Linked DNA regions of Homo sapiens. The protein of the gene in region 4 purifies or fractionates together with the protein of the main gene of each other region. This does not show direct contact. Each region holds a gene or a part of one and is shown on either strand. Other genes may lie near its edges. The genes, in order: ZMYM2, ZMYM4, OBSL1 and ZSCAN5A.

What was found.
Region 1: the proteins of ZSCAN5A (region 4) and ZMYM2 purify together in Homo sapiens (co-immunoprecipitation; 4 studies listed by BioGRID and IntAct, with this or other methods). This does not show direct contact.
Region 2: the proteins of ZSCAN5A (region 4) and ZMYM4 purify together in Homo sapiens (affinity purification with mass spectrometry; 5 studies listed by BioGRID and IntAct, with this or other methods). This does not show direct contact.
Region 3: the proteins of ZSCAN5A (region 4) and OBSL1 purify together in Homo sapiens (co-immunoprecipitation; 3 studies listed by BioGRID and IntAct, with this or other methods). This does not show direct contact.

Annotation. Positions count from the first base shown.
Region 1 is NC_000013.11:20,059,707-20,067,108, reverse strand, and holds part of ZMYM2 (zinc finger MYM-type protein 2), read right to left. Parts: intron 6,057-7,402; coding exon 5,885-6,056; intron 4,264-5,884; coding exon 4,138-4,263; intron 2,659-4,137; coding exon 2,564-2,658; intron 259-2,563; coding exon 90-258; intron 1-89. UniProt on the Homo sapiens protein: Involved in the negative regulation of transcription.
Region 2 is NC_000001.11:35,271,654-35,279,055, reverse strand, and holds part of ZMYM4 (zinc finger MYM-type protein 4), read right to left. Parts: intron 1-7,402. UniProt on the Homo sapiens protein: Plays a role in the regulation of cell morphology and cytoskeletal organization.
Region 3 is NC_000002.12:219,561,508-219,568,909, reverse strand, and holds part of OBSL1 (obscurin-like protein 1 isoform 1 precursor), read left to right. Parts: intron 1-585; coding exon 586-855; intron 856-940; coding exon 941-1,192; intron 1,193-1,334; coding exon 1,335-1,637; intron 1,638-1,783; coding exon 1,784-2,080; intron 2,081-3,395; coding exon 3,396-3,668; intron 3,669-5,282; coding exon 5,283-5,555; intron 5,556-6,235; coding exon 6,236-6,508; intron 6,509-6,901; coding exon of another isoform or gene 6,902-7,026; exon of another isoform or gene 7,027-7,188; intron 7,189-7,402. UniProt on the Homo sapiens protein: Core component of the 3M complex, a complex required to regulate microtubule dynamics and genome integrity. It is unclear how the 3M complex regulates microtubules, it could act by controlling the level of a microtubule stabilizer.
Region 4 is NC_000019.10:56,304,829-56,312,230, forward strand, and holds part of ZSCAN5A (zinc finger and SCAN domain-containing protein 5A), read right to left. Parts: intron 5,627-7,402; exon of another isoform or gene 5,321-5,626; coding exon of another isoform or gene 5,296-5,320; exon of another isoform or gene 2,532-5,295; coding exon of another isoform or gene 1,413-2,531; exon of another isoform or gene 3-1,412; coding exon of another isoform or gene 1-2. Other genes in the region: EDDM13 (epididymal protein 13 precursor), read left to right, coding at 1-2, 5,296-5,320; uncharacterized protein LOC124900420, read left to right, coding at 1,413-2,531.

The DNA.
Region 1 (7,402 bases), on a different chromosome or scaffold from region 4:
ACATTTATGTTTTTTAAATTTAAAGGTACTCAATAACAGAAATCTTGATTTTAAATAGGACTTAGGAGAAACAAAATTAAAACACTTACAAGATTTTAACTCATCTAATACCAGAAGATCTTCATCAAGTTGCCTAGTTTTGACCCAGTGTTTCCATGCATTTACGCCATACGTATATTTGAAAGGAAAGCTGCATTCTGAATTGTCAGAACTATCATCATGAGACTGGTATCCTGATACAGCCTTTCTCTTGGCTCCCTATTAGTAAAAAACACCATAATAATATCTTTTTTAAAGCCTACATTATTTCATTACTTTATACAAGCCATCTCTCAACAAAGGCAAATTACAATTGACCCTTGAGCAACATGGGTTTGAACTGCAGGGGTCCACTTGGACACGTATGTTTTTCTGTGTGCCTGCCTCTCCAACCTCCTTCTACCTCTTCCAATCGTGCCACCTGAGACAGCAAGATCAACCTCTCTCCTCTTCCTCCTCAGCCTACTCAACTTGAAGACAATGAGGATGATCTATTTCCACCTAATGAATCGTAAATATATTTTCTCTCCCATATGATTCTCTTGATAACATTTTCTCTAGCTAACTTTATTATAAAAATACAGTATGTAGCATATAAAATATGTGTTAATCAACTGTTATCAGCAAGGCTTCCAGTCAACAGTAGGCTACTAGTAGTTAGCTTTTTAGGGAGTCAAAAGTAATACATGAATTTTTGACTGTGCAGGGGGGCTCAGTGAAGAGTAGGCTACTAGTACTTAACTTTTTAGGGAGTCAAAAGTTATACACAAATTTGTGACTGTGCAGGGGGGATCAGAGCCCAACCACTGCATTGTACAACGGTCATCTGTAATTACAAATATAGTTATCTGTTTAATCTGTCATAAAAATATAGTTATTTGTTTAATGTGTCATGAAATTAGAAAAGAAAAAATGAAATATAGGTATTTGCTTTGAACTGACTGGTATTCCTGAATCTGACAACAGTCAATTAATATTCCAGGAAATGTGATGTTTCTACATAAATCACTTTGTGCAACAAAATCATATTAAATTCTGTGGTGAGAGTCACCAATGATGAGAAAATAAATATAAGACAATAAACTAATAATCTAAATATTACTGTAACAGAAACTGAAGAACTTTTCAACAACTCCACCTTATAGAGAGTGACACTTAAGTACTTTTCACTTTTTTATTTTATTGTTTTATTTTTGTTTTTTTAAGACAGGGCCTTGCTCTGTCACCCATGCTAGAGTTTTGTAATCACGGTATCTCCCCTGCCAGGTAAGTATCCATGCTGGAGTTCTGTTTTGAGGAGAGGTCTTGCTCTGTTGCCCAAGCTGGAGTGCAGTGGCACGATCATAGCTCACTGCAGCCTCGATCCTCCTCCTGGGTAGCTGGGACTGCAGGCACGTGCCACCATGCCTGGCTGGTTTTTATTTTTTAGTTTTTGTAGAGGTCTCACTATGTTGCCCAGGCTGGTCTCAAACTCTTGGGCTCCACCAATCTTCCCGCCTCAGCCTTCCTGAGTGCTGTAAGTGCTGGGATTACAGGTGCCACTGTGCCTGGCCCCCTTTTCACTTTCCTGATGGCACTGTTTGCAATGCAAAAGTTTTTAATTTTGATGTAGTCCAGTTTATTTATTTATTTTTCCTTTTCTTCCCTGTGCGTTTGGTATCTTACCTAAGAAACTGCCTAACATAAGGCCATTAAGATTTAGGCCTATGTTTTCTTCTAAGAGTTTTATATTGTTAGCTCTTACATTTAGGTCTATGGCTCATTTTGAGTTAATTGTTGTGTTTGGTGTCAAGCAGAAGTCCACCTTCATTCCACTCCAAGTATTCTCTCCCTTTTCCGGTTTTTTTTCTTTCTTTTGGGGACAATTTGTGAAAGCTATCTTTCTTAAGGTATTTTTAAAACCTGCTTTATGTTGGAAGTCAGAAACACAGAAAGTTGACAGAATATTATAACAATTACACTTGTTAATGCATGTAGATTTGGTCTACCTGAATGATCAAACTGTCCAGCATGTCTTTCTATGTGTGTTGGTATGCCTAAAAGAGACCAGAAATAATAAACTGTGTACTTCAACCCCACTGATCATCTCATCAGAAATAATCGTGGAAAAAACAGCTCCCTAGAAAACAGTCTAAATTTTTGTCAAATAATTGAACTTACTACTTTAGCAACTGTTTTCTATTTTGACCTTGTATCAATACAAGTTTAGTTGAGGTATCAACTAAATCTGAGATATTTTTATTACTTAGAAACAGTAATAAATTATTACTAGAAATAAATTATTACTACTATTATTACTAGAAATAGTAATAATTACTATTTCTATACAAATAGAAATAGTAATAAATAATAGTAATAAATAGCAGTAATATATTATTACTATATTCTATATAAATAGAAAATAAATTATTTTCCAACCTAGAAAACAAAATATGTTCCCATATTCTCAGGCACACTAAAAGAACACTGTATCCTTGTTTGCCTATAGAGAAATATTGTTATATAGGCTATTAAGTGAATGTACCTTTTTTTTAGATCGAGGTCTGGGCTGTTCCTCATATTCTTCGCCAAAAACAGGTGGTAATAAAAATTCATTTTCCATATCAAGCTCCTCAGCAGCTGACAACCAAATCAGAACTTTTATTTTAAATGAAATAGCACAGGGTTACATAAACACAGCCAACAAAGAACTAACCACAGGATGTAAACCAGCATTCATACATGGGGACAATCTAGGCTGGGCTGGGGAGTAAATGACTCATTGTACCTAACATGGTTTGTGAATTCTGACAAACACTGTTCAAACTCCTAAAAACATATATAAAATGAATATCAACATAAAATTTTCATGAAAATGTATGATACCAGAAAAATTATTATAGTCTGAAATCCAATTACAAGATCTAAATGGTCTTGGTACAAATCTGATTCAATCTATTAAATGTTTTTTCCAAAAACTAATGTTTTACATTCTACTCAGTGTGCTCATTAGCCATCCATGGATTAAGAAAATAATGAAAAATGGGGCACACTTATTTTACAAAAGACCTGAAAATAATTTTTCCTTTGAAGGTGAACTTAATTTTCAAAGGATCTTAAAAAAAAGCTAACTATATATATTATATATATAAAAACTATATAATATATATAAAATATATATTATATATAAAATTATATTTATATTATATATTGTATATATTTATATATTATATACATCATGATGTATATAATATATAAAATTATATTTATGTATTATATATATTATATATTTTTTATATATATATATTTTTTGAGACAGAGTTTTGCTCTTGTTGCCTAGGTTGGAGTGCAATGGTGCAGTCTTGGCTCACTGCAACCTCCGCCTCCTGAGTTCAAGCAATTCTGCCTCAGCCTCCCCAGTAGCTGGGATTACAGGCACTCACCACCACGCCCAGCTAATTTTTGTATTTTCAGTAGAGACGGGGTTTCACGACGTTGGCCAGGCTGGTCTCAAACTCCTGACCTCAGGTGATCCACCCACCTCGGCCTCCCAAAGTGCTGGGATTACAGGCATAAGCCACCGCACCCAGATGCTAACAACATTTTTAAATTAAAAAGGACACAAACACTTCTTTAAACTTTCTATAATGAATTACTTCTAGAATTTTTTTTTTTTTTTTTTTTTTTAAAGACAGGGTCTCACTCTGCTGCCCAAGCTGGAGTGCAGTAGCACAATCTCGGCTCACTGCAACCTCTACCTCCTGGGCTCAAGCAATCCTCCTGCCTCAGCCTCCCGAGTAGCTGGGATTACAGGCATGCACCACCACGCCTGGCTAATTTTTATATTTTTAGTAGAGACAGTGTTTCACCACATTGCCCAGGCTGGTCTTGAACTCCTGGACTCAAGTGATCTCATTCCAGAAGTTAACTGTTAAGGTGGGTTTTTAAAAAAAAACAACAACAAAATATGAAGTTAACTCTTAAGGTGAGTTTAAAAAATAACAAGAATAAAAAATATGAACACTGCTAAAAGGCAATGACACAAACATCAAATGGTAAATGATCATAACCACAGTTGACTCCATAACTAAATTCCATAGTCATAAAGGTTTTGAGTACCTCTGGGAAAATCTATTTCGATATCCAAATCTGGTTCATATGGTACATCAGGCATGCTGGACTGTGTCTCTGGGTCAGAGTTCTTCAAAAGGTCTGAACCAATTATATCTGTTTCAATAATTACACCTGAAATCAATCCATATTATCATTAGGAATCAAAACAGAAAACCCCAATGGTATCTGTATTTAATCTGGCAAAAGCAAGTCATTTAATTTTAAATGCAATATAAAAAAATACGTATAATGTCACAAAAGAAAAGGGCATATTATATATATAACTATCTCAAAATGTAAACCACTATAAACCTCATAATTAGTCACAAGCACATGAAAACTTTTAATCCTATAAATTTTACAGGAGGACTCCCTTCAAAAGCTAATAGGTATGCTTTGATAGTAAAACAACTTCAACAAGTAAAGTATTTCTAAAAGCAACTTTTTGTCAAAAATAAACTAATGAGGGTAGACAACTGTAGTTTTCAATACTCTTTGAATTTTGACCCAGGTTTCTCAGATTGTTCAATATATGCATATTAACAACTGCCTTTTAATGGTTCGATCAGTTGCTTTCAAGTGTTTTTGTGTTGTAATCATGGCAAGAAATGCATTTTATCCAGCACATACTGCAAGGTGATGGTGGGGAACAGAAAGACATCTGTATACACACTGGTTTCACAAAATAATACTTACCCTTTCTATGAGGGATTCACACTGTCATTTCTCTTACCCTATTCCACTTAGCTTTTTCTTTTCTTAAACAAAAACACTGGTTGCAACCCACTAATTTCACAACTCCTTACCACAGTGCTTCAAAAACACTGTCTCATTATTAAATCCAGAGAAAATTATAGTATTTTGATTGTCCTCTAGGGTAAGGGTAAGAATTAGCTCAAGGTTGAAATAGGACTTTGGGTATCAAGAGAGGGTTAAGGGTGGAAAATAAATATTCTAAGTGACTTAGAACCATCCACAACACACTCATCACGTTATACCATGTAGCGCAAGCACTGCCCTAACAGAGGTTAAGATAAACTCTGGTTTAGATAATGCAAATTATTTTATTAGTATAAGCAATAAAAGAAAACTAGGGGCTGGGTGTGGTAGCTCACACCTGTAATACCAGCACTTTGGGAAGCAGGTGGATCACCTGAGGTCAGGAGTTTGAGATCAGCCTGGCCAACATAGGGAAGCCCTGTCTCTACTAAAAAGACAAAAATTGGCTGGGCGTGGTGGCACGTGCCTGTAATTCCAGCTACTCAGGAGGCTGAGGCAGAAGCATAGCTTGAACCCAGGAGGCAGAGATCTCAGTGAACCGGGATCATGCTACTACACTCCACCCTGGGCAACAGAGCAAGAGTTCATCTAAAAAAAAAAACAAAACAAAACAAAAAACTAGGGATAACTATTACAAAATAAGAGTTTTGATCATCATTAGAGTCTACTACAAGTTATTATAGTTTTGCATCAGCACTACTCCATTAACAAGAATAATTTTGAGTTGATTTTACAAGTCAAATCCTGCTTAAAACAGAGACCAAAGACCAAATTCCTGCTTCGGATATCTGTCTGAGGGCACCTGGCTAAATACAGTGTAGATCTCTTAATATAAAAAACATTTTTGTTACAATGCTTTCCTCACCCCCACATAAGTTGAAACAAAATGATATGCCCTGGAAAGTACTGTAACAATACTTATAAATAACCAATGTTAACACTTATTCGCAAGGTATAATTTAGTGTAGCTCACTGTTGATGTTGGTTGTCTCTGTTTTCCCCTCGTCTTCACTCATCATATCCGTCATTGTAAGCAACTCTGTATCAAGAGCATCTGAAGAAACCTTGCTTTTTAGCTCCTCAATTGCTGCAGGAATCTTCTCACTGCTGTCCAATGGAGCAGGCAGAAAAACAGGAACTGGCACCTAATTAACCAAATCATTTTGAGTTAGGTTTACTAAACATTAAAAGGTATTTTTCCAAATTAAAAATTACTCTGACACATGATCTACTTTGTAATATCACACTGGATAAAAGCTTTGAAAAGAACACATACAAAACTAAGATGTTAACTGTGATAAGAAAGCCTAGAATACAAGCATCTACTTTTTGGAATTCAAATTAAAGAAAAAGAATTTTTGAAGTATTTCTGTCCCCCAGGGGACTATAATAGCCAAGCCCTGACACAGTGTTCTTCTAAGTACTGCAAGTGATTTGGGATAAAATAATATTTTATATGAAATTCTATGTTTCAGTTCTAAACCTTATGGCTTCACAAATATTTTTCTTTTTTTTTTTTGAGATGGAATTTCACTCTTGTTGCCCAGGCTGGAGTGCAATGGCGCTATCTCAGTTCACTGCAACCTCCGCCTCCCGGGTTCAAGCGATTCTCCTGCCTCAGCCTCCCCAGCAGCTGGGATTACAGGCATGTGCCACCATGCCCAACTAATTTTGTATTTTTAGTAGAGAGGGGGTTTCACCATGTTGGCCAGTCTGGTCTTGAACTCCTGACCTCAGGTGATCTGCCCATGTCAGCCTCCTAAAGTGCTGGGATTACAGGCGTGAGCCACTGCACATGGCCCACAAATATTCCTTTTGAAAATGAACCCAAATATAAACTTAATATGCACAGAGCAGGCACAGACATCCGCGAAATGTCACTCTCGAGGATGAACATATACATACTATACACAAAGCAATCAATCATGACAACAGAGATTCAACCAAATCTAAGTTAACTGTCGAAGAAAGGTAAAGATGGTTTTATTAGCTTCATTAAACTAGTAACTGCAACTAGAGTTATCCTCAGTATTCTAGGGGATTGGTTCCAGGACCACCTGTGGATGGATACCAAAGTCTATGCATACTCAAGTTCCACACCCCTACAGTCAGCCTTCTACACAGATTTCACATCCTCAAATAATTTTTTATTTTCATTTTTTTTGAGATAAGGACTTGCTTTGTAGACCAGGCTGCAGTGCAGTGGTGCAATCACGGCTCATTGCAGCCTCCATCTCCCAAGCTCAAGCAATCTTCCTACCTCAGCCTCCCAAGTAGCTGGGATTACAGGTATATGCCACTGTGCCTGGCTAATTTTTACATTTTTAGTAGAGACAGGGTGTCACCATGTTGCCCAGGCTGGTCTTGAACTCCTGGGCTGAAGATACGCCTACCTTAGCCTCCCAAAGTGCTGGGATTACAGGCAGAATACTGTATTTTCAGTCTGTGTTTGGTCACGGATGTGGAACCTGCCAATATAGAGGGCCGCCCA
Region 2 (7,402 bases), on a different chromosome or scaffold from region 4:
AAGCCACAGAGGATTATTCTCAGGCCCTGAAACCTAGAGAAATTTGTCCTGCTGAGTTTTGAACTTGCTTGAAACCGGAGATCCTTTATTCTTTCCATTTTCTTCCTTTTGAATGGGAATGTCTATCTTAACAGCTGTCTCATCCTCTCATCATTGTATTTTGGAAGCAGATAAGTTGTTTTCCAGTTTCACAGGTCCACAGATGGAGAATTTTATCCCAAATGAATCATGCCGAGTCCATACTCTTACCTAATTTAGATGATTTAAGACAATGAGATTTCAAACTTTTTGAGGTTATAATATTTGGAGATTTTGGACTTAAGAGTTCATGCTGTAGCTGGGCATGGTGGCTCATGCCTGTAATCCCAGCACTTTGGGAGGCCGAGGCGGGCAGATCACGAGGTCAGGAGATGGAGCCCATCCTAACATAGTGAAACCCCGTCTCCACTAAAAATACAAAAAATTAGCCAGGCATGGCGGCACGCTCCTGTAGTCCCAGCTACTTGGGAGACTGAGGCAGGAAAATGGCTTGAACCCAGGAGGCAGAGGTTGCAGTGAGCCAAGATTCTGCCACTACACTCCAGCCTGGGCGAGAGAGTGAAATTCCATCTAAAAAAAAAAAAAAAAAACAGAGTTCATGCTGTAATAGGTCGAGACTTTTGAGGATGTTGGGATGAGGTGAATTTATTTTGCATATGGGATGTAAATGAAGTTTTAGGGGTCAAAAAAAGAACTGTAGTGTATTAAACTGTGGCTCCCAAAAGTTATGTCCACCCAGAACCACAGTATGTGAGCAGACTAGATCTTTGGAGAGGTAATTATGGTAAGGATCTTGAGCTGAGAACATCCAGGAATAAGGTAGACCCTAAGAGACAGAAAAGAAGATGCAGAAAGAAGACCAAGGGAAGATGAAGGCAAAGACAGGAGTTTTGCCGCCACAAGTCAAGGAATACCAACCAAGCCACAAGAAGATAGAAGAGACAAGCAAAGATTCTTCCCTAGAGCCTTGATTTTGGACTTCTAGCCTCCAAAACTGTGAGATAATTTCTGATGTTTTAAGCTACCAAGTATGTAGCAGTTTTTTGGCAGCCTTAGGAAACTAATTTAAGAGACCGCCAATCATCAAAGATACAACAAATTGAACACCAAAAATAATGACTATGATAAATTAGAATGTATCACATATGGTAAAACTCATGAGTTCCTAATGATACTCCCTCCCAAACCTCACCTTTGGGAGTTGTGAGGGCGGGCATCAATTCATTTTTCTGAAAATTACTGATAAAGGGGAAAAAAATAAGCATTTATCCTGCTTTTTCTTTACAAACCGTATTACAAGGTAACCAAATAATTGATGAGGGAATTCTTTATGAAAGAATTCCAGTTAATAAATACAAAAGAAATGACCAAAAAAAATCACTCTTCTAATGAAATAATGGATATAGGCAAGAATTATCATTAAGTGAAAAGTTAAAAATAAATTACATTTGGATCCCACTGACAGAACCTAAACCAAATGATCCATTTAGTATCACTAAAAGTAGAACCACCACTTAAGTTACCTCCTAGAACGATCCAACAAGAATTCACAGCCCCATCTAATGGAATGACTATAAATCCTAATTTGTCTAGAACAATTCCAGTTTAAACTATTCCTTCTGTGTAATCATTATAGCACCCCCTTTCATTCTCAAAATTGTCTGATTGCAAATAAATTATATAACCACTCTTTATAAATATTTCTTGCCAAAGAAACTGAACCTAAACTCATCAAGCTCTACCAACTAGGGCTCTCAATCTTGGCTACAGACTGAAATCACTTGGTAAATTTTTTAAAATATTGATGATGACATTTTACCTCATGGGCTCTGATTAATTTATCGGAGATGTGGCCTAGGGATCAGGATAACTAAAAGCTCTCCAGATAATTCTAAAGTTTTAGCCAAAGTTCAGAACCACTGCTCTGTATTTAACTACTAATTTGTGGGAAATATGAGGGGTAAAGGAACATGTTAAATACCATAACAAGGATTCAATCAGCCAAATCCAAAATGTGGAAAATTATCCTGGAACAATAACCTATTTTTTTCAACAAATAAATAGCATGGGAAAGGAGCACAGGGGGTATGAGTTAAGAAAGGGGATTATTGGCTGGGTGCAGTGGCTCATGCCTATAATCCCAGCACTTTGGGAGGCGGAGGCGGGTGGATCACTTGAAATCAGGAGCTTGAGACCAGCTTGGCCAACATGGCAAAACCCTGTCGCTACTAAAAACACAAAATAAGCCAAGGCTGGTGGTGCATGCCTATAATCCCAGCTACTCGGGAGGCTGAAGCAGGAAAATCGCTTGAACCCAGGAGACGGACGATGCAGTGAGCCAAGATCACGCCACTGCACTCCAGCCTGGGCAACAAGGGCAAAACTCCATTTCAAAAAGAAAAAAAAAGGTGGGGGGAGGTGATTAAGGTTAAGAAAAACTTAAGAAACATATAAACTAAATGAAATGTGTAACTCTTAGTTGGATGATTTAAACAAATCAGTGTAAAAAGACACTTAAAGAATAAGAGAAGTCTGAACACAGACTGGATTAAGGAACTCTTTTGTTAGGTCGTAACAGTATTGTGGTTGTGCTTGTTAAAAATTCTTATCTGTTAGAAATACACACGGAAGTATTTATAGATTAAATGATGTGATGTGTGTTATTTCTTTGAAATTATTTCAACTATGGAAAAAAAGGAAGGAAGGAGGAAGGAAAGGAAAGGAGGGAAGAAAGAAGGGAGGGAGGGAGGGAAGGAGGGAGGGAGGGAGGGACAGAAATGAGTAGTTAGATGAGACAGGAATAGTAGATTAATTTTTGGCTTATAAATGTATAATATGCATGTCAGTATTAAAATACATTTGTAAGACATATTGGGAAGTGTAAAGAAAGAAAAACACATATGATTCTTGATATGTGCTGGGTTCTCAAAGAACTGACAGTGCTGGGTTCTATACGCTGGATAGACCAAAACAAAACAAAAAAAAGGACTATCTTTGGTCAAAGGCAGCTAATTAAAGCTTCTAGGAGGCCAGAAAGATGATATGAATGAAATTAAAATAACAATATAAATATTTCCTAAGTACAAGAAAGTGGGTATAGGTATGAGAAGGTTGGATAAGAACTATTACTACCCCAAAATTGCTAAATTCCAGAGATTATACCATAAACTGACTTTGAAAAACCCATGCTCCTGCTAATGGCTAAGCCACATAAAAGTGTCATTTTTTTTTAAGTCAAATGGTCAAGTATTAGCAATTTTGTTGGGTTGAATACAGTACATTTATACAATACTTGCCTTTCTCCTTTGCTAAAGTAAGTACATACAGTTAGCTCATAGTAAAATAATCAGAATTTTTAAGGGAAATATCACTTTTCTTTAAATAGTGGCTGTTCTCCTAATACAGAATTCAAAAATACCTCTTAAGTATCCATAGAAACTGAAATTTTATATTTATCTACTTACATATTCTTTAGTAAGAAAACCTTTCTGGCAAGGCACAGTGGCTCACGCCTGTAATCCCAGCACTTTGGGAGGCTGAGGCGGGCAGATCATGAGGTCAGGAGTTCAAGACCAGCCTGGCCAACATGGTGAAACCCTGTCTAAAAATTAGCTGGGCATTGTGGTGCACGCCTGTAATCCTAGCTACTCGGGGGACTGAGGCAGGAGAATTGCTTGAACCCAGGAGGTGGAGGTTGTAGTGAGCTGAGATGGCACCACTGTACTCCAGCCTAGGCGACAGAGCAAGACTCTGTCTCAAAAAAAAAGAAAAGAAAAAAGAAAATCTTTCCATTGTCAAAAAAAGTACAAACATAATCTTTAAAGTAAATCACAGCTTCAAAATATTTAGTGTATATTTTCTAAAAAATAAATGTGAGCTGTGAATACATATTTTAAGATGATCTCAAACAAAAATGTATTTCTTAGGGAACAAGTTAACTTAATGATTCCTAAGAAGTAACTTACATCAACTTTGTTTGAATGTAATTCAAATTATTCTAACATCCATACATTCCAGATAAAGAATTATGTGCTTTATTTTACAAATGAGAATATAAACACTAACCATAATATTTCTGGATAAACAAAAGTTCTAACCTATATGATCGAACAGGACCAGTTCAAGTAATAATTGATCCTGATTTAGCCATCATATCTCCAGCAAATCTCTCTGTGCCTTAATTTCCTAATTTATAAAATGGGACAATAATTGTGGTTGAAAAATACATCACATGTAAAATACTTAGAAAAATGACTGGCACTTAAGGGTTTATAATACCAAGTATTATCATTATTTATAGATGTCTCTGCTTATTACAAGATGGGAAGAACCAGCGTGTGAAAACAACTCAGAATCATTCTCAGTATTAGAATGGCCTCTCCTTTTTTTTTTTTTTTTTTAAAAAAAAAAACAGTGTCTCTCTTGCTCTGTCACCCAGGCTAAAGTGCAGTGGCACAATCATAGTTCAATGCAATCTCGAAATCCTAGGCTCAAGCAATCCTCCAAGCAATCCTCCCACCTCAGCCTCATGAGTAGACGAGGCTACTAAACCTCGGGTAATTTTTTTAATTTATTGTAGAGATGGGGTCTTGCTATGTTGTCCAGGATGGTCTCAAACTCCTGGCCTCATGCCATCCTCCTGCCTCGGCCTCCCAAAGTGCTAGGATTACAAGCATGAACCACTGTACCCAGCCACAAGTATTATTATTTACAGATCCCTCTGTGTGTTACAAGATGGGAAGCAGTGTGAAAACAATGCAGAATCACTGTATTTGAATGGCCTCTTCAAATGGTCTCTAAACAAAGAGTCAATACTTTCTAAAAGCAAATTATTCACATTGCATACATATAAACCGCAAATATTGTAATGATATGTACCGCCATGTTTTTAAGTAATACATTTAGCAAAAAGACAGAAAAGAGAAAAAGTTAATTAAGGAATTAAGAGGGATCAATCTTTTGCAATTATTTTATTATAAAATATTAAAATAACAGAAATTCAAAATAAAACTTCTCCATATCCCATCACATCATGAAGTCAATGCTTTCATTTGTTCGTATTTTCTACTGTCTATATGTGTGTTCAATTTTCACAGATTTATATATTAATAGATAACATTTTATAGTCTACATTTTCACTTAGCATTATACCATGAATACTTTTTCCACTTTGTGAAATTTGCACCCTTATACTCTCTTTCGTTTCTCCTCCCTACCCACTGAAGGTAATCAGTGGTAATATCCCAAACTGTGTCCTCCACAATTTTCTCTAAGTTCATACATGTACAAGCATATACAGACACAAATGTGGGGAGGCAAGAAAGGTCGTTTTGTTTTGTTTTTCACAAAAAATGGAAGCATACTACTTATACATATGCTTTCTCTCTTTTTTAAGCATACCAGGTATATACATCTCAAATTTAATACACACAGAATTTTAAGTATGAAAATGAATACAATTTACTAGACCGGGTAATATTTACATTTACAAAAGTTATTATTTTGTATGTAAACTTTGAAAAGACAAGGATTTTACAACAAAATATGGCCGCCCGATTTAGTTAGACCTCATACTTCATAACATACTGGTTATTATAATAGCCATGCATAAATAATTCAATCATTTATAATAAGCCTACCTAATGAGTCTTAAAAGCTATTTGAGAAAACAAAAATTTTATCATCTAAAAAAATTAAATAATATGCCAACTTTAAAGTGTGTGTGTGTGTATGTATTTGTGTGGGTGTGATGCTTGCTGTAACGCCTTCATGTATAGGCACTAGGATATGAACTTAATTCTCTCTATACTAGAGATGATAGATGAATATAGCGCTGATCCACCCACATACTCAGCTCCCCCGTGTTCACAAATTGAGAGACTAGCATTCCAGCATATTCTGAATACAAGTGTTCCGACTGCCCACAAATATAAAAACAAGACATCAGGCAGGCCTACCTAGAATTTAAGGTTGTTAACCCAATGGTCTTAAAATGCAGTCACCGGCTGGGCGTGGTGGCTCACGCCTGTAATCCTAGCACTTTGGGAGGCCGAGGCGGGTGGATCACGAGGTCAGGAGATCGAGACCATCCTGGCTAACATGGTGAAACCCCGTCTCTACTAAAAATACAGAAACAAAAAATTAGCCGGGCATGGTGGTGGGAGCCTGTAGTCCCAGCTACTCGGGAGGCTGAGGCGAAGGAATGGCGTGAACCCGGGAGGCGGAGCTTGCAGTGAGCTGAGATAGCGCCACTGCACTCCAGCATGGGCGACAGAGCAAGACTCCATCTCAAAAACAACAACAAAAAATGCAGTCACCTGCCCATCTAACCATAATCCAGAACAATCAGAAGATCCCTAAATCTGGATCCATAGGAGAGAACTCTGGGGAGTAAAGGACGCTATGAAAGATTTACAGAGCCCCTCAAAATTACAAAGCAGAGAACTTGGTACTCAACCCATAGAGCCTCTGCTGTACTAGGTAAGCTATTCTTACAAAAATAAGTCAGCAAGTCTTTTGAGTTCCTACTGTGTAGAGGTCACAAGATGTCCAGACGCAAAAAGCAATGAAATAGATACTATGTTAAAGGAGTTCACAATTTATCAAGAGAGCCAGCATATATTATCCTAAATGACCCTAAGTAACAAAGCACAATGCCTAGCATGTAGCTTATGAAATAGCACAGGTGCTTAGCAACTTTTTTGTGACATGATTACAAAGGTCAAAAGCAGTAAGCATCATTAAGTACAATACCATGTCATCAATGCAATTTCAGATTGAATAGCCTAAAGTTACTATCTAAGTCTATGTGGATAGTTTGTTTCAACTCCCTCAAGGCAGTCAATTTCCAAAGACATGGTACTGCATAGTCCCCATTAATCGGCTTGGAGTATACATATGGAATCCACATGTAATTTGGCACACACCAAAAAAAAGTGGAAAAAAGTACTTATATCATTTAAGACAATCATACCGAACATTCTAATGAAATATCAAAAACAAAATGAATTATGGATCAAAAAATATTATTTATGTATTATTTTTACTTTTTCTAGAGAGGGGGTTTCCCTCTGTCACCCAGGCTGGAGAGCAGTGGCAATATCATAGCTCACTGCAACCTCCAACTCCTGGGCTCAAGCAATGCTCCCACCTCAACCTCTGAATAGCGAGGACTAGAAGCATGTGCCACCACACCATTAATTCCAAAAATCAATGAATGTAATTTTCCTCTGTGATGAAACTGGCAAAATAATGGGGGAAACCTATACAAGTCCTGCGTATGTTATAGGTTGTTAAAAATAAAATTAACTTTTGGGCCAGGCCCGGTAGCTCACACCTGTAATCCCAGCACTTTGGGAAGCCG
Region 3 (7,402 bases), on a different chromosome or scaffold from region 4:
CCAGGCGTGGTGGCGCCTGCCTGTAATCCCAGCTCTACTTGAGAGGCTGAGGCACCAGAATTGCTTGAACCCAGGAGGTGGAGGTTGCAGTGAGCCGAGATTGCGCGACTGCACTCCAGCCTGGGCAACAGAGCGAGACTCCATCTCAAAAAAAAAAAGAGTTAAAATATTTTAAATTCTACTCAGACCCTTGCAGAATATGTGAAATGACTGGGGCGGGGGGAGCCAGGGAACAGTTTGGAAATCACCAATCTAGGGCCTGGAGGACCCCAGGGAACAGTTTGGAAATCATCAATCTGGTCCAACCCCTTCTCTCCCTTTCCCCATTTTACAAGTAAGGAGACTGAGGCCCAGAAGCATTGAAATGGACTTGCTTAAGGTGATGTGGCTAGTGTCAGGGCTGGATGAGAACTCAGGTCATCTTAGGAACCACCACTTCCCTTCTGGTAGTTTTCTGTGATTCCACAGTGCCCGCTGGCTCTGCATGAAGAGCACACAGCATGAGCTAATGCGCTTCTAGGTATCCTACTCCTAGTCTGGGCCTTCTCCAGAGCCCTCTCTTGTCTCTCTCTCCCCTCTCCACAGAGCCCCGCCTCCGGTTCACACGGCCCCTGCAGGACGTGGAGGGCCGTGAGCACGGGATTGCCGTGCTGGAATGTAAAGTACCCAACTCCCGCATCCCCACGGCCTGGTTCCGTGAGGACCAGCGGCTGCTGCCCTGCCGCAAGTACGAGCAGATCGAAGAGGGCACTGTCCGGCGCCTCATCATCCACAGGCTGAAGGCAGACGATGATGGTATCTACCTGTGCGAGATGCGGGGCCGGGTGCGCACCGTGGCCAACGTCACAGTCAAAGGTCAGCTGGCCCGTGGGGAAGAGGCTGAGGCGGAGGCAGGCAGGTGCTCAGATTCCAGGTTGATGGATTCCTGTCCGCATCTCAGGGCCCATCCTGAAGCGCCTGCCCCGGAAGCTCGACGTCCTGGAAGGAGAGAATGCTGTGCTGCTAGTGGAAACTCTAGAGGCCGGGGTCGAGGGACGCTGGAGCCGTGATGGGGAGGAGCTGCCGGTCATCTGCCAGAGCAGCTCAGGCCACATGCATGCCCTGGTCCTTCCAGGGGTCACCCGAGAGGATGCTGGCGAGGTCACCTTTAGCCTGGGCAACTCCCGTACCACTACGCTTCTCAGAGTAAAATGTGAGGGCAGGAAGGCCTCTGGACAGGCGAGGCAGGGCAGGAGGTTGGCCAGATGCCGGAGCTGGGTTGGTGAAGTAGATTTAAGGTGGAAGGGCTGTGGAGGCCCAAGCAAGGCCGGAACACATCCCTGCCTTGGTCTCAGGTGTCAAGCACAGTCCCCCAGGACCCCCCATATTGGCAGAGATGTTCAAGGGCCACAAGAACACGGTCCTGTTGACCTGGAAGCCTCCCGAGCCAGCTCCCGAGACCCCATTCATCTACCGGCTGGAGCGGCAGGAAGTGGGCTCTGAAGACTGGATTCAGTGCTTCAGCATCGAGAAAGCCGGAGCCGTGGAGGTGCCGGGCGACTGTGTGCCCTCCGAGGGTGACTACCGCTTCCGCATCTGCACAGTCAGCGGACATGGCCGTAGTCCCCACGTGGTGTTCCACGGTTCTGCTCACCTTGGTGAGTTGGTCCTGCCAGACCCACCCATCACTTCTCCTCCCTTCCCCAGCCCTCAGTGCTGGTCCTCTCACAGGCTTGCCATCCGCCAGCCTCTGCCCTCTGCCACACCTTCTAGTTCTGACAGCTGCACTCTGTCCCTGCCTCAGTGCCCACAGCTCGCCTGGTGGCAGGTCTGGAGGATGTGCAGGTATACGACGGGGAAGATGCCGTCTTCTCCCTCGATCTCTCCACCATCATCCAGGGTACCTGGTTCCTTAATGGGGAAGAGCTCAAGAGTAACGAGCCGGAGGGCCAGGTGGAACCTGGGGCCCTGCGGTACCGTATAGAGCAGAAGGGTCTGCAGCACAGACTCATCCTGCATGCCGTCAAGCACCAGGACAGCGGTGCCCTGGTCGGCTTCAGCTGCCCCGGCGTGCAGGACTCAGCTGCCCTCACAATCCAAGGTTGGTGCCAGTGGGGACCTGAGTGGGCAGAAAGGGTCAAGACACAGAAGTCCTGTTGGCAAAACGAGGCAGATGCTGTTTTTATTTCTTGTATCTGGGCCAGGAGAGCAAGGAGCATCCATGATGGGCTGAGGTTGAGGGCTCAGAGGTCCGGAAGGCCAATTTCAACCCACATGCAACATCCAGGGCACCCCTTGTTATCTTGATATATGTCAGCATCATATCCCAATTCTCTGGAGTGCTTTGTGGTTTACAGAATCCTGTCAGATTTGTCATCTCATTTGAAAGACACAGACCCTGGCTGCTAGTCCCTGCCTGCCTCCTGCCATGTTGTCTAATTGTTGACATTGTCATCGCAACTTTCTACGTGCCAGGCGCAGTCCTAATCACCTTACATACATTAACACAATCTTCTCAATGGCCCTATAAGATAGGTTCTTTTTTTTTTTTTGAGATAGAGTCTCACTCTGTCGCCCAGGCTGGAGTGCAATGGCGCGATCTCGGCTCACTGCAACCTCCACCTTGTGGGTTCAAGAGATTCTCCTGCCTCAGCCTCCCGAGTAGCTGGGACTACAGACATGCATCACCATGCCCGGCTTGTTTTTGTATTTTAGTAGAGATGGGGCTTCGCCATGTTGGCCAGGCTTATCTCAAACTTAAGATAGGTTCTTTTGACATTCCCATTTTATAGCTGGGGAAACAGGCAGATACGTTAAGTGACTTGCTCAAAGTACGGAGCTAATGAGCACAGGTGCTGAATTATGAACCCAGGCAGTCGGGCTCCTGATCACACTGTGCCACCTGTTGAAAGGGGGAAGGAGGGGAATGAGGCATCCCTGAGGAGAACAGCTGGAGGTGGGGCGCTCAAAGTTCAAGGATCACGCTAGCATTTGCCATGTCACCATTGCTGGAGTTTGTAAGACCAATCAAGGAATCTGTCGGCACCCATGCACGGGGTCTTGGGGTGATTCACTGTCAGCATCGCAGGCAGAGGGGCCAGGTGAGACCTGACCAGCAACCAGAGCAGCATTTCCAAAATGGGATCCCAGTTCACTGACATCAGAACCACCTGGAGGGCTGGTTTATAATGCAGATTTCCTGGCCCCTGCGTGCTTGGGAATCCAAGAATTCTGCATTTTTAGCAGGCTCCCTAGGAATTCTTATGCACAGCCAAAGCACTGCTCTTAAGGGTTGGTGTGGAAGCCTAAGCCTATTTTTAAAAACCCCAACAACAGCAGTTGTTCCCTCTGATGCATCCGACACTGAGCCCATGCACCGGAGGGAGGGGTGCTTATCTGTACTTCTCCCCACACAGAGAGCCCGGTGCACATCCTGAGCCCCCAGGACAGGGTGTCGTTGACCTTCACAACCTCAGAGCGGGTGGTGCTGACTTGTGAGCTCTCAAGGGTGGACTTCCCGGCAACCTGGTACAAGGATGGGCAGAAGGTGGAGGAGAGCGAGTTGCTGGTGGTGAAGATGGATGGGCGCAAACACCGTCTGATCCTGCCTGAGGCCAAAGTCCAGGACAGTGGCGAGTTTGAGTGCAGGACAGAAGGGGTCTCGGCCTTCTTCGGCGTCACTGTCCAAGGTCAGGAAGCATGCCAGCCTGGGCTCCTCCAGCCAAGGCTGATTGTGGGGCCGCATAAGCCATGCCCTCTGGTCTGCTGCCTACTTGGGGGAGTCCTTTACAGGGAGAGTCCAGTGGCCCAGGGGACATGTTTCAGATAACTCTGCACTTGCTTTTTTGTTTCTTGTTTTTTTTGGAGACAGGCTCTCACTCTGTTGCCCTGGCTGGAGGGCAGTGGCGTGATCTCAGCTCATTGCAACCTCCGCCTCCTGGGTTAAAGCGATTCTCTCACCTCAGCCTCCCAAGTAGCTGGGACTACAGGTGCGCGCCACCACGCCCAGCTAATTTTTTTATTATTTGGTAGAGACGGTTTCACTATGTTGGTTAGGTCACCCCTGACCTCAAATGATCTGCCCGCCTCAGCCTTCTAAAATGCTGGGATTATAGGTATGAGCCACCATGCCTGGCTTTCTTTCTTTCTTTCTTTTTTTAAGATGAGGGTCTCACTGTTGCCCAGGCTGGCCTTGAACTCCTGTGCTCAAACGATCCTCCTTCCTCAGCCTCCTGAGCAGCTGGGATTATAGGTGTGTGCCACGCACAGCGTGCCTTTGCCTCCTAAACCCCTGATACACTAACACTGTCTCGCTGTCCACATAGCCTCTGCTGGGTTGGGTGGGGGAACAAAATGCAATTAAGGGGAGGAGAGATGGGAGCAAACACTTTTTGGACACTTACTCTGAGCCAAGCACTATGCTAAGTATTTTCAATATACACTCTTTCATTTAATCTTCACAACTCGATGAGGGGCAATATATCTCCAGTTCACAGGCAAAGAAATGGAGGCTGTAAGAGGTTATGTGACCTCCGTCACACCATAGCTTGGCGACACACACAGGATTGTTCTGTTCCTGCTGCCTCAGATAGAGTCAAACAGAAGCATCGAGTGCAGTCACCCCGTGGTTCTCACAAGGCAGTCCGTAGGCTGGCTGCTTTAGGAAGCTCCTGGAAGCTGGTTATAAATCCCTGGACTGTCCAGAGCCCCAGTATCCAGGGTGGAGCCTGAAGATCCTTTCCTAACAAGTGCAGACTCTCTGAGAGAGCAGCTTGGGAACCATGGATCCCACTCATCTCACTGAGTGGGAGTCCTGTTTTCCACACTGTGGCCCCTGCCTGAATGCACCCAGTGACAGGGAACCCACTACCTGGAGAGTGGCTGTCTCACTGTTGCCACTTGTTGGATCATCCTTCACCTCCTGCCCACCCTGGGGTCTTTCTCGTAATAGAGGCAGTAAGCATGGCCCTGATGTGACTTGTGACAGTGACCTCCCTTCAGCCTAGACAAATGGTGGCTGCCACTCTGTGAACTCTCTGTGCTTCCTTCTCTCTATGTACTCACCCCGCCACCTCTGATCCTTTGGGGACCTACAGAGCACTCTGGTGCCACATGATCTCCTGCCATGCCTCACCTGCCATGCCCTCAGCATTCCTTGTCATTGTCCCTGAGTCCCTACACAGCAGGACCTTAGCCCTCCTCCAGTGTCCTCTTGTGCAGAAACAGTGTCTCCTGGCCACACAGCTAGTTTGGACTCATTGTGCGGGGGTGTCTGTGCAATGCCATCTCTGCTTCCCACCCAGATCCTCCCGTGCACATCGTGGACCCCCGAGAACATGTGTTCGTGCATGCCATAACTTCCGAGTGTGTCATGCTGGCCTGTGAGGTGGACCGAGAGGACGCCCCTGTGCGTTGGTACAAGGACGGGCAGGAGGTGGAGGAGAGTGACTTCGTGGTGCTGGAGAATGAGGGGCCCCATCGCCGCCTGGTGCTGCCCGCCACCCAGCCCTCAGACGGGGGCGAGTTTCAGTGCGTCGCTGGAGATGAGTGTGCCTACTTCACTGTCACCATCACAGGTGGGGGGCCAGGTGGGCCTCGGAGGCACAGGGGAAGGTGCCCCTGCTCCCACTGGAACAGCTGCCACACCTTCACTCCCAGGCCACTGTTCCCCGCCCCTACTGCCCTCCCCCTGGCAGATCGGACCTCCTCCCTTTCTCCTCAAGCTATGGTCTAGTCACATTCAGGAAACGTGTTATCATAAGCACATTGGTCTTGGCTAAGGAAGCCTGGCTTTCTCTATTCTCCTGAAAACCTGTACCAAGGGAAATCTCTGGGGACAGTGAGTCTATTGCAGGGTAGGGCAGAGTCTAGGGCTGGTGGTCTCAGGCACTAGGGGGGCAAAAACATCTTGGAGGAGGAGACCCCCAGCTCCTCCCCCCAACCCTCCTCTCATCAGTTCCACCCTTCATACCGTCCCTGTCCCAACCCAGAGAATGTGGAGCGTTTCTACAGCCGAGGCTGACCCCGTGGTCCCCTCTGTGCAGCTCCTGCGCAGCAGAAAGTCTGCTGTGCTTTTGTGACAGCTGTATTCGTGTGTCTCTAGCTGTGAGTAACTGTCAGCTGCTGTGAGATTTGGTCTCAGGAAGGTCCCTCTTCAACACATGGCCTACTTTCCAGGGGTAGGGAACACAACGGGGTCAGGGAGGACGGCAGGGCACACCCCTCATGCCCGGCAGTGGCTGTCCCTGTCCTCCAGACGTCTCCTCGTGGATCGTGTATCCCAGCGGCAAGGTGTATGTGGCAGCCGTGCGCCTGGAGCGTGTGGTGCTGACCTGTGAGCTATGCCGGCCCTGGGCAGAGGTGCGCTGGACCAAGGATGGAGAGGAGGTGGTGGAGAGCCCCGCGCTGCTCCTGCAGAAGGAAGACACTGTCCGCCGCCTGGTGCTGCCCGCTGTCCAGCTCGAGGACTCCGGCGAGTACTTGTGTGAAATTGACGATGAGTCGGCCTCCTTCACTGTCACCGTCACAGGTGTGGGCCCAGCCCAGCTCCCCGGGGTCACAGAGACAGCCCTGAGCCCTGGAGGAGCTGGCCACATAGCCCCAGCTAGCACCCCGGGGAGGAGGGAGGTGTGGGCTGCAGGTGCATGTGCCAGGGTTCTTGCTGAGATGAGCCCAGGGCCCCTATTCAAGGAAACAAGCCCCTCCCCGGTGCCCAAGGCCAGGCCTAGCTCTGCTCCACAGCTCATTTACTGAGCACTTTCCCTGAATCAGGCACTGGGAGTAGCAGGTGAGTAATGCAAATACGGTCCCTATTCTGAATGAGCTGCCAGGCTAGGTGAGGAGGCAGCTGTTAACCAGGGGTCGCAAACGGGTAGTCCTGGGGCCCTGCGCATTCCACACATGTGCTTTGTTTGGTCTGCAGAGTCTTACCAAAGTCAGGACAGTTCAAATAACAATCCGGAGTTATGCGTCCTCTTGAAAAAGCCGAAGACCCGGCGGCTCTGGTCCCGCTTCCCCCCATGGCGACGAACAGCTGGCACTGAGTAGCAGCTGCCCCCATAGTTTGGGGCCCACATTCCTCTGTCCCACCTCCCTGCCATTGCTTTTTGCCTCTCCCCAGACTGCTTCAGCCGCTAACCTAACCTGGCCCCTGTGGGCATTTGAGTTTGCGACCCCTGTGTTAAACCAATAAACATGCAAATAAATGTACAGTGACACCTGGTGATAAGTACTGTGAGGGCCAAGGGCAGAGGGCTCAAGAGCACAGAGCAGGAGGGTCAGGGAGGCCTGGGAGAAAGTCACCCTTCCACACACGGGAGCCAGCAGCACGCAGACACGGCCGCTTCCCTCTAGGACTGCACAGCCTGGCAGGAAAGCCAGACGCATTCCAGGATCTTAGAGCATGGGTTGTTGAGGGCCAGTC
Region 4 (7,402 bases):
AGGTATGCTATGGCAGGGAAGTGGGCTTTTCCCACCGCTGGGGTGGGGTTAGGGGAGGTTCATCCCAACTGCCTGGCATTTGAGGTAAGGAACACAGGTGGATTTGGAAGCTGCAATCATAGAAACCCAGAATTCCATGAGAAGTCCCAAGTTCGTCACCCTTACTTGCAAGCCACTGCCTGACAGGGGCAAGGAAACACATTGTAAATGACAGGGATGTGCCGGGCAGGAGGAACTCCTTTATAAATTCACTCTATAATTTTTTCACAAGTCTTAGGACTTGTGGCCCAACACACACGACATAAAATTAACCATTAGTGACATTCAGTACACTCAAAATATTGTGTGGCCATCACCACTAATCTGTTTCCAGAATCTTCTCATCATCCTAAAAGGGAACTCTGTACCAAGACATCGTCTCTTCCCCCTGTTCCTGGCAACCACTAGTCTACTCTCTGTCTCTGAGAACTCACCTACTCTGGTCATTTCATACACATGGAATCATACACTACGTGGCCCTTTGCATCTGGGTTTATTCATTTGGCATAATATTTCCAAGGTTCATCATGGTATACCTTGTATCAGGACTGTATTCGTTTCTGCTGGATAACACTCCACGGCATGGACATAGCACACTTTGTTTATCCATCATCAGGTAAAGTGCACTGGGTTGCTCCCACCTTTTGACTGTTGTGAGTCGTGGTGCTATGAACAAGTTATGTTAGAATATCTGTTTTAAAATCTTTTGGGGTACAAACTAGGAGTGGAATTGCTAGGTCATATGATAATTCTGTGTTTATAACGACCCACTGATGCATCCTGGATGCAGTAGTGAACGGGGCAGACAAGATTCCTGAGCTCACAAGAAAACAATTAGATGATTACAGGTGATACTTAGAGCTAGAGGAAAAGCTGAGGATATGATGAAAAAGAGAACTAAAGAACCTTGCCCTGGATAGTTGGGTGATGAAGGAAAGCCTCTTTAGGAAAGTGACAATGAATCAAAGGCCTGTAGAATGAGGGGTTGTCAGATACACAGAAAACAAGTGAAAGAGCCTCCAGGTGAAGGAACTGGCTTGTACGAAGGCCCTGGGGTGGAAAGTGGCCTAGATGTGCCTGGAGTCAGAAAGAAAAATGGGGGCAGGAGAAGGGGGAGGGAGTGGGAGGGCACTATGGGAGGAGTGTGGGTGACATGCTCAGCAGACCACCTCAGACCTGGAAGATTAGAGCAAGCATTTTAGACCCAACCTTCAGAGCCATGGGAAGCCACGGAAAGGCTGTCAGTGAGAAAGAGACACGTCCCAGTGACATGAAGTGTAGAGGCCAGTTAAGAGGCTACTCAGTTTCCACGAGATGACGGTAGCCTGGTCAAGGCTAGGGTCCAGGGTACGGAGAGAAAGTACGAAAGACAGATGGGAGGTTTCTCTTCCCTCGATAGCTGCAAAGAGGGTCCCCCTGGCCTCTCCCGCATCGCCAGAGAAAGTACTAAGGACAGATGGGAGATTTCTCTTCCCTTGATAGCTACAAAGAGGCTCCTCCCTGGCCTCTCCCACGTCGCCAGAGAAAGTACTAAGGACAGATGGGAGACTTCTCTTCCCTCGGTATCTGCAAAGAGGGTCCCCCCCGGCCTCTCCCCTGTTGCCAGAGAAAGTACTAAGGACAGATGGGAGATTTCTCTTCCCTTGATAGCTACAAAGAGGCTCCTCCCTGGCTTCTCCCACGTCGCCAGAGAAAGTACTAAGGACAGATGGGAGATTTCTCTTCCCTTGATAGCTACAAAGAGGCTCCTCCCTGGCCTCTCCCACGTCGCCAGAGAAAGTACTAAGGACAGATGGGAGACTTCTCTTCCCTCGGTATCTGCAAAGAGGGTCCCCCCCGGCCTCTCCCCTGTTGCCAGAGAAAGTACTAAGGACAGATGGGAGATTTCTCTTCCCTTGATAGCTACAAAGAGGCTCCTCCCTGGCTTCTCCCACGTCGCCAGAGAAAGTACTAAGGACAGATGGGAGATTTCTCTTCCCTTGATAGCTACAAAGAGGCTCCTCCCTGGCCTCTCCCACGTCGCCAGAGAAAGTACTAAGGACAGATGGGAGACTTCTCTTCCCTTGATAGCTACAAAGAGGCTCCTCCCTGGCCTCTCCCACGTCGCCAGAGAAAGTACTAAGGACAGATGGGAGACTTCTCTTCCCTCGGTATCTGCAAAGAGGGTCCCCCCCGGCCTCTCCCCTGTTGCCAGAGAAAGTACTAAGGACAGATGGGAGATTTCTCTTCCCTTGATAGCTACAAAGAGGCTCCTCCCTGGCCTCTCCCACGTCGCCAGAGAAAGTACTAAGGACAGATGGGAGATTTCTCTTCCCTTGATAGCTACAAAGAGGCTCCTCCCTGGCCTCTCCCACGTCGCCTGCCTTTCATCCTCTCCCTGGCATCCCCAGTGCCCTTTTTACATTAAAAAATGTCAACTCGATCATACGATATACCCCCACCCCCTGCTGCAGTCCTGCTTAAATCCACCAGTGGAAACTCACCAACTATGATGAGTGTCTTTCAAACTTTAAAAGAAAGAAAATCCAAAACACTTTTCTACTGAAATCTTACATGGAATCCCAATATATAAAAAATTCTAAGTTGCTTTTCATTACCAGAGGTACTTTTCCTAAGGTTAACTGTGTGACATTTACTTATTATGAAGTGAGGTGATGAGATTTGCAAGCACAGGGTACAGAAGGCCTCTGCTGTCTTACGTTACTCTCTTTTACCCCGTATCTTGCAGTGTTTCCTTTTAATTGTTCATACGGAGAAAAATCTGAGCCCACAGAGATAAGTCACTGCAAATGCCTAATAGTTTGCCTTGTGAAGTGTACATGCCCTTCAGGTAATACAATTTTTTCCCCAAGGTCTGTATGTAAAACATGCAACAGGTTGGTGTGGCTCTCCAGTGAATAAAAATTTCAGTCCATGTGCTATATTTTGGGTACACACCTATTTTAAAAAATAGTTTAATTTTTGAAATGAAAATCAAAGCAAACCTTTGTGGAATTCCTAAAAGATCCCAAGTTTTCAGGGAACCTGGCAGGAAGCCTCTGCCCCATTGATCAAGTTCAGGTCTCTGGCATGGTACCCAAGGGTTCTCAGGCTCCAAGCTCCTCCTGCTTCTCTAAACTTTTCTCCACTTCTCTTGATCCCCCCACCCACATTCCATCCCCTGTCCATATTAAACCTTTTTTTTTGAGACAGGGTCTCGCTCTGTCGCCAGGCTGGAGCGCAGTGGCGCAATCTTGGCTCACTGCAACCTCCGCCTCCCGGGTTCAAGCAATTCTCCTGCCTCAGCCTCCCAAGTAGCTGGGACTACAGGCGAGTGCCACCACGCCCAGCTAAGTTTTGTACTTTTAGTAGAGACGGGGTTTCACCATGTTGGCCAGGATGGTCTCGATCTCTTGACCTTGTGATCCGCCCGCCTCGGCCTCCCAAAGTGCTGGGATTACAGGCGTGAGCGGTGGCTCCCAGTCTTTTTTTTTTGAGATGGAGGCTCACTCTGTCACCCAGGCTGGAGAACAGTGGCCCAATCTCAGCTCACTGCAACCTCTGCCTCCCAGGTTCAAACGATTCTCCTGCCTCAGACTCCCAAGTAGCTGGGATTACAGGCATGCACCACCACACCTGGCTAATTTTTGTATTTTTAGTAGAGATGAAGTTTCACCATGTTGTCCAGGCTGGTCTCGAACTCCTGACCTCAGGTGACCCACCCACCTCGGCCTCCCAAAGTGCTGGGATTACAGGCATGAGCCACCACGCCCCCCCATATTAAATCATTTCTGATTCCCCCCAAAACATCACATTTTTTTTCCCGCTCCATTATGCCATTGCACACATTGATTCCTTGATCTCTGTCTACCTAGAAAAGTCCTCCTCAGTCCTCAAGATTCACCTAAGCAATGCTTTGGTTCAGGAACCAACAGCAATCCTTCAGATTCCACTGGGGAGGATGCTGAAGGAAATGAATGGTGTTGAACGGTTTCTCAGGCTCTCTTCAACCATACATTAAAGCACCGGTCAAACCAGATAGTTATTTTCATATAAAGGTGTGCTTTCAACCCATTAGGCAAGAGGTTGGCAAACTTTCTCTGTGAAGGGCCAAATATTACGTGTTGGCTTTTCAGGTCATATGGTCTGTTGCAACTACTCTAGTCAAAGCAATCGTAGAGAATACACTGATGGCTGTGACTGTACCCAACAACTGATGAAAGGATAAACAAAACGTAGTGCATTCATACAATGGATTATTATTCAGCCCCCAAAAGAGGAATGGGGTCCTGGCACGTGCAACAACACGGCTGAACCTTGAAAACACTGTGCTGAGTGAAAGAAGCAGACACAAAAGATCACACAGTAGATGATGCCATGTATATGAAACAGACAGATCTGGCAAATTCAAAGAGACAGAAGGCCAATTACTAGTTGTCAGGGGCTGAGGGGAGGAAGGAACAAGGGGAGTGACTGCTTTTAATGGATTTCTTTTTTGGGTTGATGAAAATGTTCCACTCTTAGAAGTGACAATTGCACAACATGGCGAATGTAATGAAGGCCACTAAATTGTGCCCTTTCAAAATGGTTAAAATGGTGAATTTTATGTTATGCATTATGTTTGCATTTTACCTCAATTACAAAAAGAAACTTTATTAAAAGGGATGCAGGCTGCAGTTGGCCCTGCGGAACACAGTTTGAGGGCCCCTGCTCACATAGACTGTGAGCCCCTGTGGGAGCAGGAAGTACCCCTGATCCATCCCTGGAACTCCAGCACCCAGAAGCAAACCTTAAGGTTCTCTTCCTGCAACTCTGAGTGACTCCAGCACACCAGGCTAGGGGGTGCAGCCCAGCCAGGCCTGGGCAGTCCCTGCTCCTGCGGGGCGCGCCCTCTAGTGGGAGGTAGGGGTGCAACACAAGCTCAGGCCCGGCGCCGGGACAGTGAGGAACTGGAGGGGGCGCTGCTTCCCACTGGCTGGTTTCTAGAAGAGCCCTGCTCTGAGGAGGAGACACTTGCCCTGGTGATGGGGCAGAGCTAGGGTCCATAAGATCTGAGGGAAGCGTGTTCCAGCTGCTGGAACAGCCCGGTGGGAATAGGGACAAACTTGGTGGAACCTAGTGAGTGGGGAGAATGGGCTAAGCTGGAGGGAGGAGGTGGGCTTGAGGCAGGTCACAAAGAGCCCTGTAGAGGTGGATGGAGAGGGCACCAGGCAAGGAGTATGAGAATGCATGAAGACGAAAATCAATGCACAAATACATTTCTCTCTCCTTTCTTAGGGATGATCCCTGCTGTTCTTTCTAGTGAGCCTGCTCCATCTCAGCTTAGCCTTCACAAGGCCTCCATCTCCCAGGCATTCTAACCTCTGAAGAAAGCTCTCTGTCCCCTGGACTGCCTGTGTGGAGGGTAATGAACTGGGTCCTTTAAGGAATGGCACCTGGGTGCCCAGAGGCATGGCCAGAAGGTGTCTGTGGGGGCCATGCCTTAGGGGGATGCACCCAGGGCGGCTGAGAGAGCAACTGCAGGAGTTTCCCCTAAAATCTCTCCTCCAGATCGTTCTCGAACTTTCCCCACTACTTCCATAATAAAATGTATACTTGTTGAAATGGCTGAAAAGGCTGGGTTATTCCATTCGCCCAACACTGAAAACTAACAGGTATGCTGGTGGATTACCAAGAATCAAACGCTATCAGTTAACTGTGCACTTTACAGGTGAAGACACTACAGCTCAGAGAGACCGATGGCTCGTCCAACATCACACTAAGCTACACAGCTGAGATTTGACCCAGTTGGACTCATTCCAAAGTCCGTATTCTTTTGTGTAAAGATTTGGGGCTGCCCCCACCGTCCTGAGGAAATACAGTTGTGAGGATATGGCTGTTCCAGGAGGAAGCCGTATCCAGCTCTCCAGCCTGCATGTTTCTTGCCTATTCTGGAGGAGGTTCCTTGTCCTGGTTGAAAGCTTTGGCTCTGGAGACAGGTTTCTTGGGTTCGAATCCCAGCTCCACCCCTTAATAGATATGCAGGCTTGGGGAAGGTATTGTCTCTTAATGCCTTATTTTATCATCTGTAAAATGGGGATAGTAACAGTAGGGTAGAAGTTCTCTTATCATCATGATCAGAACCATCACTGGTTGGTTCATCAAATAAGTTGGTTCCAATAGGTAATTAAAAATACTTTTACCATTTTGTTTTAAAACATAAAATTGTACAGGCATTTGCTAATCTTTTGATATAAGACCAGGGGGTTTCGTTGTTGTTGTTGTATAGGTCTATGGACCTACAATTTCCAGTTTGTCCCTTAAAAGGGCAGCGGAGACACAGGCATGCTTGCAAAGCTATTTAAGCAAAATCCTCACTGCATTAAAAAAAAGAAAAAGATCATCCCTATAGCCATCTTGCTCATTCCAACTTGACATATTTTTTGTTGTTGCTCTTATTAACAATCGGCCTTTATCACATCTTTCCCACTGAATTACTGTTTTGGGTGGAAACAATTCTTTGCTGATGCACTCATATTTTCCTCATTTATGTTAAATGTAATTGCATTACATAATTGAAATAAAATCCATTAGAATGAAAAGGTTTAGAATAAATGCAACTCAACTAGCTCTGGGTAGTCACACAACTGAACCAATAGAGAAGAATGAAGGCATATTAGAAAGCACTGCACTAGCCAGGGGCATTCAGTGAGCCTGAAGCATCAGTTGGTATATTTCATAGACGGATGGAAAATTCTTTTACCCCAGGGATCATTTTAAAGTGGAGTTTAAGAAACAGTCTACTGAGTTTGCCTCATAGAGGTAAAGTTTAAATGAGATAATATATATATATTTTTAAGTTCCACGATACATGTGCAGGCTGTGCAGTTTTGTTACACAGGTAAATGTGTGCCATGGTAGTTTGCTGCCCCTATCAATCCATCACCTAGGTATTCAGCCCAGCAGGCATTAGCTATTTTTCCAATGCTCTCCCTCCCCACAATCCCATACCCCGACAGGCCCCAGTGCGTGTTGTTCACCCCTATGTGTTCACGTGTTCTAAATAAGATAATATTTCTAAAACACACTGCCTGGCACATAGTTCTCAATTAATGTATTGTTATTATCTAGGGCAGTGTTATCCAATAAAAATCTGTGAGCCACACTTATTTCACACTTCCTACTAGCCCAGAAGCCCGGTAAAATCAATTTGAATAATATGTACGATTTAATTCAATATATCCAAGATACATTTCAACATGTAGTCAATAAAAAAAATTATTAATGAGATCAGTTATATCCTTCATTTTGTATGAAGTCTTTGAAATCCATTGTGTATTTTTCACTTATGGCACATCTCAATTTGAATGCTAAAATTGATCTGCAATTATATTTTCTAACATTT